2 linked regions of the Homo sapiens genome follow. Each later gene encodes a partner of the first gene's protein in a complex. Each region holds a gene or a part of one and is shown on either strand. Other genes may lie near its edges. The genes, in order: CIRBP and TNPO3. A codon is read from its position in the direction of its gene.

Region 1 (3,908 bases):
GTCGGGTCCCGCATGGTCAGTGGCCAGCAGGGGTGGATGAAGGGGTCCCAGCCGCCTGAGACCCCCGGTGGGGACACAGGATCGCGGTGAGATACCTGGGAGTCACGGGTGCTCGCAGACGCAGCTGACCCCAGAGGCACAGGTACCGACACAGGTCCACACCTGGAAGCCGGTGCACAGTGCTCGGCACAGATGCAAAGCGGCAGGTGTGCGCAGGTGCGTGTCAACGCCACCCTGGGAACCCAGGATGGCTGCGGACACTCACGGAGCCCGCACCCAGGAACCCGCTCGTAGTAAGCGCTTAATAACTAGGCACTGGCTGAATGAATGAATGAATGAATGAACACGGCGCTTCGCAAAACCAGGAAAAGGCAGAGGCTCACAGAACCAGGGAACGATGGGCTGGGGGGAGCGGCAAGAATTACGCAATTATGCAGGGGCCGCTGTGACTACCAGGCACCCCCTCCAACTCCCCCCCTACAAGGGCTGCTCTGGGTCAGAGAACGTCCACCGCGCTGACTGCTGGGGCTGGGGGCTGGGGGCGCAGATCAGAAAGAATGGGCCTGAATTGCTCCCAGGCTGGGCATGTGGCGCCCGCGTCTGGGGCTCCAGTGGGTGGGTGGCCCCTCCCGCATGGACGGCGGGCGCAGGGGAGCTCGGTGCTGATGTCTCTCTCCTTTAATAACCACCCTGCGTGAGTGGCTGACGCAGCAGCCGGCTGCCGCTGACGGGGAGTGGGGCGGCTGTAGTGGGGGGGCCCGAGGTGCAGAGGGGGTGGTGATGAATCACACAGCTGCTGCCTGGGGGAGGGGGTCTTGAGCCCATGAGGGGTCCCAGAGACCTTGTCACTGGAGACAGCGCCCCTGGCTACCCCCACCTCGATCCACTTGAGGGTGGAAGTGAGTCTGAGGTCAGGAGTGGGGCCGGGATTTCCCTGGGATGAGCAGCAAAGCGGGGGTCTCTGTACGCCAACTTCCCCCAGCTTGTCAGCAGAGGGTCATCCCTCCGAAGACTTTCTGGGGCAGAGAGGCAGGGGTCCGCGCTGGCTTCTTCCACCAGGGCTGGGGGAGGCGGCGGCATGAGATGACTCCTGGGCGAGGAGCAAGTGGTGGCCATAGAGGGCCCCCCAGAGGCTTTGGGGCCGCCGAAGAGTAGTGAGTGAGGGTCCTTGTAAAGCTGGTTCTCCAGATGGCGGCGGCTTTAAGACTCCCCTCCGCCAACCAGGCTCAGTAGGGGAGGCCTGTGGAAGGAGAGAAAAGGCCTGGGTGGAGGAGCAGAGTGGGCCTGGCCCCGCGTGGGGAGCGAGTGCGCCGTTGCTGTGCAGCACGGTGGGAGGGGAGGCCGAGGGCCGGGCGGAGTGCTGGGGTGCAGTGGGGACTCGGGGTGTCCGCCTGCACCCGACAGCAGGGACGCACAACACTATCCGGCCAGGCGAGTGTGGGGGTGTGGGCCACGCACCCAGCCGTGATAATCGCGGTTCCAGTGGGAGTTAGGCTTGGGTGCGGGTTGGAGTTTGTAGGCAAACTGGGTTGCGTAAAGTTGGGGTGCACCAAAGTGTGGCGATGTAGGAAGAATTGGGATTGCGAATATTGGGGTTCGCATGAATGGGGTTGTCTCTGTTGGGGTTTTGGTGGGCATGGGGTTGATGGCAGGAATGGAGTGCTGGGGTGCTGGGAAAACTGGGACGTCGGTTGTATTGGCAAGAATATCACGACAGGTGTCGGGGTTCAGATGAAGTTGGGATGTCTGACAGCCGGGTCTTGGTTGGGTAGGGGATCTGGGCTAGGTTGTTATGTCGGGACTGCTGGAGCACAGGCAAAGTCGGGGTCCCAGTGACACCCAGAAGTCCCCATGAGGCCTGAGGCCTGGGAATCGGGGCTAGAGGCCCATTTGTTCCCCGCCGCAGGCCAGGGAGCAGGCACGCGTAACTGGGTCAGCCCCGCCCCGCCCCGCCGCGCGCTGGTCACGCCCCCTCGAGCGCGGGTGGAGGACTGCGGACTGCAAACGTCTCGGCCAATAGTCGAGCCCGACACCAGTCCGCGGGAGGGGGCGGAACCGAGATAGACTCGGCCCCCAGCTCATGAATATAAGACGCAGGCGCGCCCTCTGATTGGCCCAGGATGTGTAGGGGGCGGGGCCCGGCGGAAGCGTATATAAGGCCGGGCTCGGGGACGCCCCCCCCTCACTCGCGCGTTAGGAGGCTCGGGTCGTTGTGGTGCGCTGTCTTCCCGCTTGCGTCAGGGACCTGCCCGACTCAGTGGTGAGGGCCCTGGCTGCACCGGCTCCGAGGAGCTCGGGGCGGCGGGCGGCCTGCGGCGGCCAGGCGAGGCGGGGCCGCAGCGGCACGCCCCTGGGAGGGGGCGGGCCCGGGGTGGAGTCCGCCCCGCCGGCGGCGAGGGACAGCGGGAGATTGGGCCGAGTAGCGGCCAGAGGGCCTCTCCCCGCCGGTCCGGGCCGCCGGCGACCCGGTTGCCGCCGCAAAATGGCGGCCGCGAGCTCGAGGCTGTGCCCAGCGAAATGGCGGGAGCGCCGAGTTCCCGGATGGAGTGGCGCAGGGTGCGCGCGGGGCGCATGCGCACGCGGCGGGGGCGGGGCCACGTGGCGCCCCCGGTCTCCAGGGCCGCTTTCCCGGCCTTGGGGCTGGAGGTATCCACACACCAACGCTTTTGCTTACCGAGCCTTAGTTTCCTCCTTTTCCCATTGCGATTGCATGAGGGAAAGGACGGCCTCGTAAATCTTGGGTAGGCGTGGCCCGTTCTAGTGTGGTTCCTCGTCTGCCACGTCGTGCTTTGCGCCCAAAGTTTGGTCCAAGTTGGCACAGCTCCCAGTGCCAGACTTCCAAGTCTAGTTCTCAGAGCCACTGGGTGGCGGCCATTCCCAGCCAGTGAATGCTTTGTCTGTGTCAGCACTGACCGCCCCCTTAAATAGCCAGTTCTCCTAAATGCCACTTCCCCTGCCTGGAAATCCTGCCTTATCACTTCCGGGGCCATCCCTTCCCGATTCCCGGCCTAGGTCCTGGCTATGGAAGTCAGTACCTGCCCTGAGGTGCCCCCCAGGACGGGGCGGCCTCCCTGACAGCCAGCCCCCCCCCCAGTCTCAGGAGGCATTTTACAGTGAGCAGAAGCACGTTCTGGTCCAGCAACAAGTAGATGTCAGTTGGTTAGGGTAGGAGTTGGCACCCGTTCGGAAATAGGAGAACCTGAGAGTGCAGTCCTGCCCAGGGCACAACTGGAAGGCTGTGGGGGAAGGGAGACACCCATTGTGGAAATGGGTGCGGCCTGCCTTCAGTCTTGGGGGTGGATGGAGTAAATTATTTGAATTAAGAAGTCCTAGGTGGCTGGGTGCGGTGGCTCACACCTGTAATCCCAAAACTTTGGGTGGCCAAGGTGGGAGGATTGCTTGAGCCCAGGAGTTTCAGACCAGCCTGGGCAACAGAGCAAGACCCCATCTCTACTAAAACAAATTTAAAAAAATTATCCAGGCGTGGTGGTGTACACCTACAGTCCCAGTTTCTTGGGAGGCTGAGGTAGGAGGATTGCTTGAGCCCAGGAGGTGGAGGCTGCAGTGACCCCTGCACTCCAGTCTGGGTGACAGTTAGACACACTGCCCCCGACCCCAAAAAAATAAGTCCTAGGTATGAGTTTGAGATAATGAAAAATAAAAATCTGATTTTCTAATATTTCCCCTAAAAAACACATGTCATTTACATAAAATAGGAAGCGGGGAGAGGTGGTGAGAGATGACCCCTGTTGAGGATTTCATTGGTGTCTGCCACAGGCCGCCATGGCATCAGATGAAGGCAAACTTTTTGTTGGAGGGCTGAGTTTTGACACCAATGAGCAGTCGCTGGAGCAGGTCTTCTCAAAGTACGGACAGATCTCTGAAGGTGAGGCTGCTGCTGGGCCCGC
Region 2 (3,908 bases), on another chromosome or scaffold:
GTGGACTTCATAGGTGAAAACTGTTTATGTCAACTGGGAAGGATTTATGTGTTTCTTTTCCTGATCAGATTCTCATTACAATCTTTTTCTTTTCCCAGCTGTGCTTTTCTTCTTTGTTCCTTTTGTACTTATTGTAATAAATATTTGGCAAGTCTGAATGCTGTGGCATTTCTGAAAAAGCATTTCTTTTAAAATCACTGTTTTGTTTTAGGCACTGTGCATCCCCACCTTTCAGCTCCTAGAACAGCAGAATGGTCTCCAGAATCACCCTGACACTGTAGATGACCTGTTCCGGCTAGCCACCAGGTAAATCCTTCTGAAGAGCCCATTTCTTAATTGCTCATCCTATCACTGCTTAGTCTTGCCATCTGACCCTTGGTTGTTTTATTCTTGTAAAATGAAGTCACTGGAGTAAGTAGATTAATGATTCATAACCCAAAGGTAAATTGCAAGCTGATATATCCCCAGCAGTGACGCAGAGTATTGCGGGAAGCAAGGGATAAAGGAGCTGAGTTCCTGCCAGGAAGGAGGGCTCACACACAAGACAATGCAGTGTGCCTGGCAAAACACTTGACTAGATCATCTCTACAGTCCTCTGTAGGTTTTAACTGTTCGTGCTGTTGCGATTTCATGTTTCACCTCAACCTTCTCTTTGAGAAGCTTAGCATCCTTTAGATATAATCAGTTTCGGAATAAAGAATGTTTGGGATTTTAAGATGCCTTAGCAGTTATCTCATACTGTATTTCTCAGCTCTACTCACAGCCTACTTTATCAGTAGCACTGATAATATGATTGCCAAACTTCTGCTTGAATTCCTTAGTCCCTAACTAAGGAATTTGAACCAAAACTGTTACCATATCAGCATTAAAAAAAAAAAAAAAAGAAAAATCATTATTTTCGAAACAACAAAAGCCCAACTGTTATATCATTTACAAATGCAAAGTAATGTTGACTTGATTGTTTCATCTTAGGATTGATTTTTTTTCTTTTTTCTTTTTTGAGATGGACTCTCACTCTGTTGCCCAGGCTGGAGTGCAATGGCATGATCTCGGCTCACTGCAACCTCTGCCTCCTGGGTTCAAGTGATTCTCCTACCTCAGCCTCCCGAGTAGTTGGGATTACAGGTGCCCACCACCATGCCCAGCTAATTTTTGTATTTTTAGTAGAGACGGGGTTTTGCCATGTTGATCAGGCTGGTCTCAAACTCCTGGCCTCAGGTGATCCGCCCACCTTGGCCTCCCAAAGTCCTGGGATTACAGGCGTGAGCCACCGTACCTGGCAGGATTGAATATTGAACCCTTTTTTTTTGTTAGTTTTTGGATAGGTTAGAAAAACCCTTTTTTTTTCCTTTTCTTTTTTTTTTTTTTTCAGTTGATAGAATTGTTGGATGGGCTGTCACCCTCTGTTTTCTTTTTTTTTTTTTTTTTTTTTTTTTTTGAGACGGAGTCTCGCTCTGTCGCCCAGGCTGGAGTGCAGTGGCGTGATCTTGGCTCACTGCAAGCTCTGCCTCCTGGGTTCACGCCATTCTCCTGCCTCAGCCTCCCGAGTAGCTGGGACTACAGGCACCCGCCACCACACCCAGCTAATTTTTTGTATTTTTAGTAGAGACGGGGTTTCACTGTGTTAGCCAGGATGGTCTCGATCTCCTGACCTCGTGATCCACCCTCCTCGGCCTCCCAAAGTGCTGGGATTACAGGCCTGAGCCACCACGCCCGGCACACCCTCTGTTTTCTTAGGGTATGTATTCCTTGGAAAACTAGTCCCTAAAAATGTTCTTTATACAAATGATGAAACAAGTTTGGAGTATACTGTACCTTTTTCTGAAGAGATTCTCCCTGTATATTAAAGGAACTTAGAAACCTGATAGTAGTTTAAAGGAAAAAATAAACAAGCAAAACTACTTTCAAAATCCAGCAGCATTTCCCAAGCTTACCTGAACACACAACCTTTTCTTTGAGGGATTCCTGTTGACATCCTGGGAACTGGAATTCTGTGAACTTTAGTTTGGGAAATGCTGTTCTAGCATCTTTAGGACTTTTTAACCTAGGAGAGTTTCTACTTGTAGGTCCTTTTGACTGGTCTTTCTTGATTTATAAAATCTTAGTTGGAAATAGGATGTGGTGACACGTCTTTTAATATACTAATCTTAAGATATGGTCCTTTTTTTTTAAAGAGCAACTTTAGGTTCACTGCAAATTTGAGTGAAAAGTTGCTCCCATATACCCCTCCCTCCTAACACACACAGCCTTCCCCTCTATTAGCATCCCCCACCAGAGTAATACAAACAGTGACCCTATATGAACACATCATTATCACCCAAAGTCCATAGTTTACATTAGGCTTCACTCTTGGTGTACATTCTGTGGGTTTTGACAAATGTGTAATGACATGTATCCACTGTTATAGTATCATACAGAATACTTTCACTGCCAAAAAAAATCCTCTATGTTCTGTCTATTCATCCCTTCTTCCCTGAAACCCCCCACCAACCACTGATCTTTTTTACTGTCTTCATAGTTTTGCCCTTTTACCCTGGCTGCTTTTATAGCCTAATCTTGTCATTTATACCTAGTCTCACTTTCCACACCAGGTTTATTCAGCGTAGCCCTGTCACCTTGCTGCGGAGCCAAGTGGTCATCCCTATCTTACAGTGGGCCATTGCCTCTACTACCCTGGACCACCGGGATGCCAATTGTAGTGTCATGAGGTTTCTACGAGACCTCATTCATACAGGGGTAGCCAATGATGTAAGTATAAAAATGATACCATTTCTACTTAACAGCTTTTATCTCCTATCTCTTTGTCATTCCTTAGGAGAAAACCAGCATCCCAGTATTTCCTTACTTGATCTATATTGGTAGACATATATCATAGTGGATCATTCACTAGCCAAAATATCAACTAAGACACTTGTGCTGGGTGCTTTAGGCTATATAAAGCAGTCTAAAACTGTTCATGCTCCCAAATCATTTGGTGTCTAGTTGAAGAGAGAAACAAGTTTAAAGAGTTAAGTAACAACAAGATGCCAGTGTTTGGTGTTTTTCATTTGTTTTTGAAACAGGGTCTTGCTCTGTCGCCTAGGCTGGAGTACAGTGATGTGAATCTCAAGGGATCCTCAGCTACTGAGTAGCCAGGACTACAGACATTCAACACCATGCCTGGCTAGTTTTTATATTTTTTGTAGAGATGGCATTTCACCATGTTGCCCAGGTTGGTCTTGAACTCCTGGCCTCAAGTGATCCTCCCACCTTGGCCTCCAGTATTTGATTGTCAGATGAGTGATAAAAGTCATGATTGGTATGAGATCAGACGAGGGAAAGCTCTAGACCAAAAAGAGTTGGAATAACTTTATGGAAGGGGAGGGATTTAAATGAAGCCATGAATTAGAGGTAGAATTTTGATGGATTAGAGAGGCAGATAGTCATACTGCCTCTAAGCCAAGATCAGAGCAAGTCAGAATAGTACTAAGTTTGTTAGTAGACAACTAAGCAGTGGGAGTAGTAAAGTGCTTCACAGGAATTTCGAAGGTAGGTTTGATTAGATGTGGAGTAGAATTGTAGACAGGGGAGAGCAGTGAAGAAGTAAGTATTCTGCATTCTATTTAGGCTATTCATTTAAGAAGTTTGGCAGTAAAAGAGAGAAGAAAATAACTAGAAGGGAAAGGCAATTTAAAAAATATTTTTCTCAAGGTATTAGAAATACATGTGTATTTAAAGACCACAAGAAGGGCCAGGCGCAGTGGCTCACGCCTGTAATCCCAGCACTTTGGGAGGCCAAGGCGTGCAGATCACTTGAGGTCAGGAGTTCAAGACCAGCCTGGCCAACATGGTGAAACCCTGTCTCTACTAAAAATACAAAAATTAGCCAAGTGTGGTAGTGTATGCCTGTAATCCCAGTTTCTAGGGAG

The links.
Region 2: the proteins of CIRBP (region 1) and TNPO3 are in contact, whole or in part, in a crystal structure (PDB 8CMK), measured with the Homo sapiens proteins. Residues at the interface, in NP_001271.1 of Homo sapiens: Tyr160, Arg161, Ser163, Tyr164, Asp165, Ser166, Tyr167, Ala168; in NP_036602.1 of Homo sapiens: Arg620, Glu660, Arg661, Cys663, Arg664, Arg667, Phe668, Arg671, Ser698, Cys699, Tyr702, Ser705, Ile706, Asp709, Glu710, Asp747 (codon at 272), Asp750 (codon at 281), Asp751 (codon at 284), Arg754 (codon at 293), Arg758 (codon at 305).

The regions. Positions count from the first base shown.
Region 1 is NC_000019.10:1,267,151-1,271,058, forward strand, and holds the start of CIRBP (cold-inducible RNA-binding protein), read left to right. Parts: upstream 1-2,181; 5' UTR 2,182-2,260; intron 2,261-2,674; exon of another isoform or gene 2,675-3,110; intron 3,111-3,716; exon of another isoform or gene 3,717-3,777; 5' UTR 3,778-3,783; coding exon 3,784-3,886; intron 3,887-3,908. UniProt on the Homo sapiens protein: Cold-inducible mRNA binding protein that plays a protective role in the genotoxic stress response by stabilizing transcripts of genes involved in cell survival. Acts as a translational activator.
Region 2 is NC_000007.14:128,971,266-128,975,173, reverse strand, and holds part of TNPO3 (transportin-3), read left to right. Parts: intron 1-211; coding exon 212-306; intron 307-2,591; coding exon 2,592-2,748; intron 2,749-3,908. UniProt on the Homo sapiens protein: Importin, which transports target proteins into the nucleus. Specifically mediates the nuclear import of splicing factor serine/arginine (SR) proteins, such as RBM4, SFRS1 and SFRS2, by recognizing phosphorylated SR domains.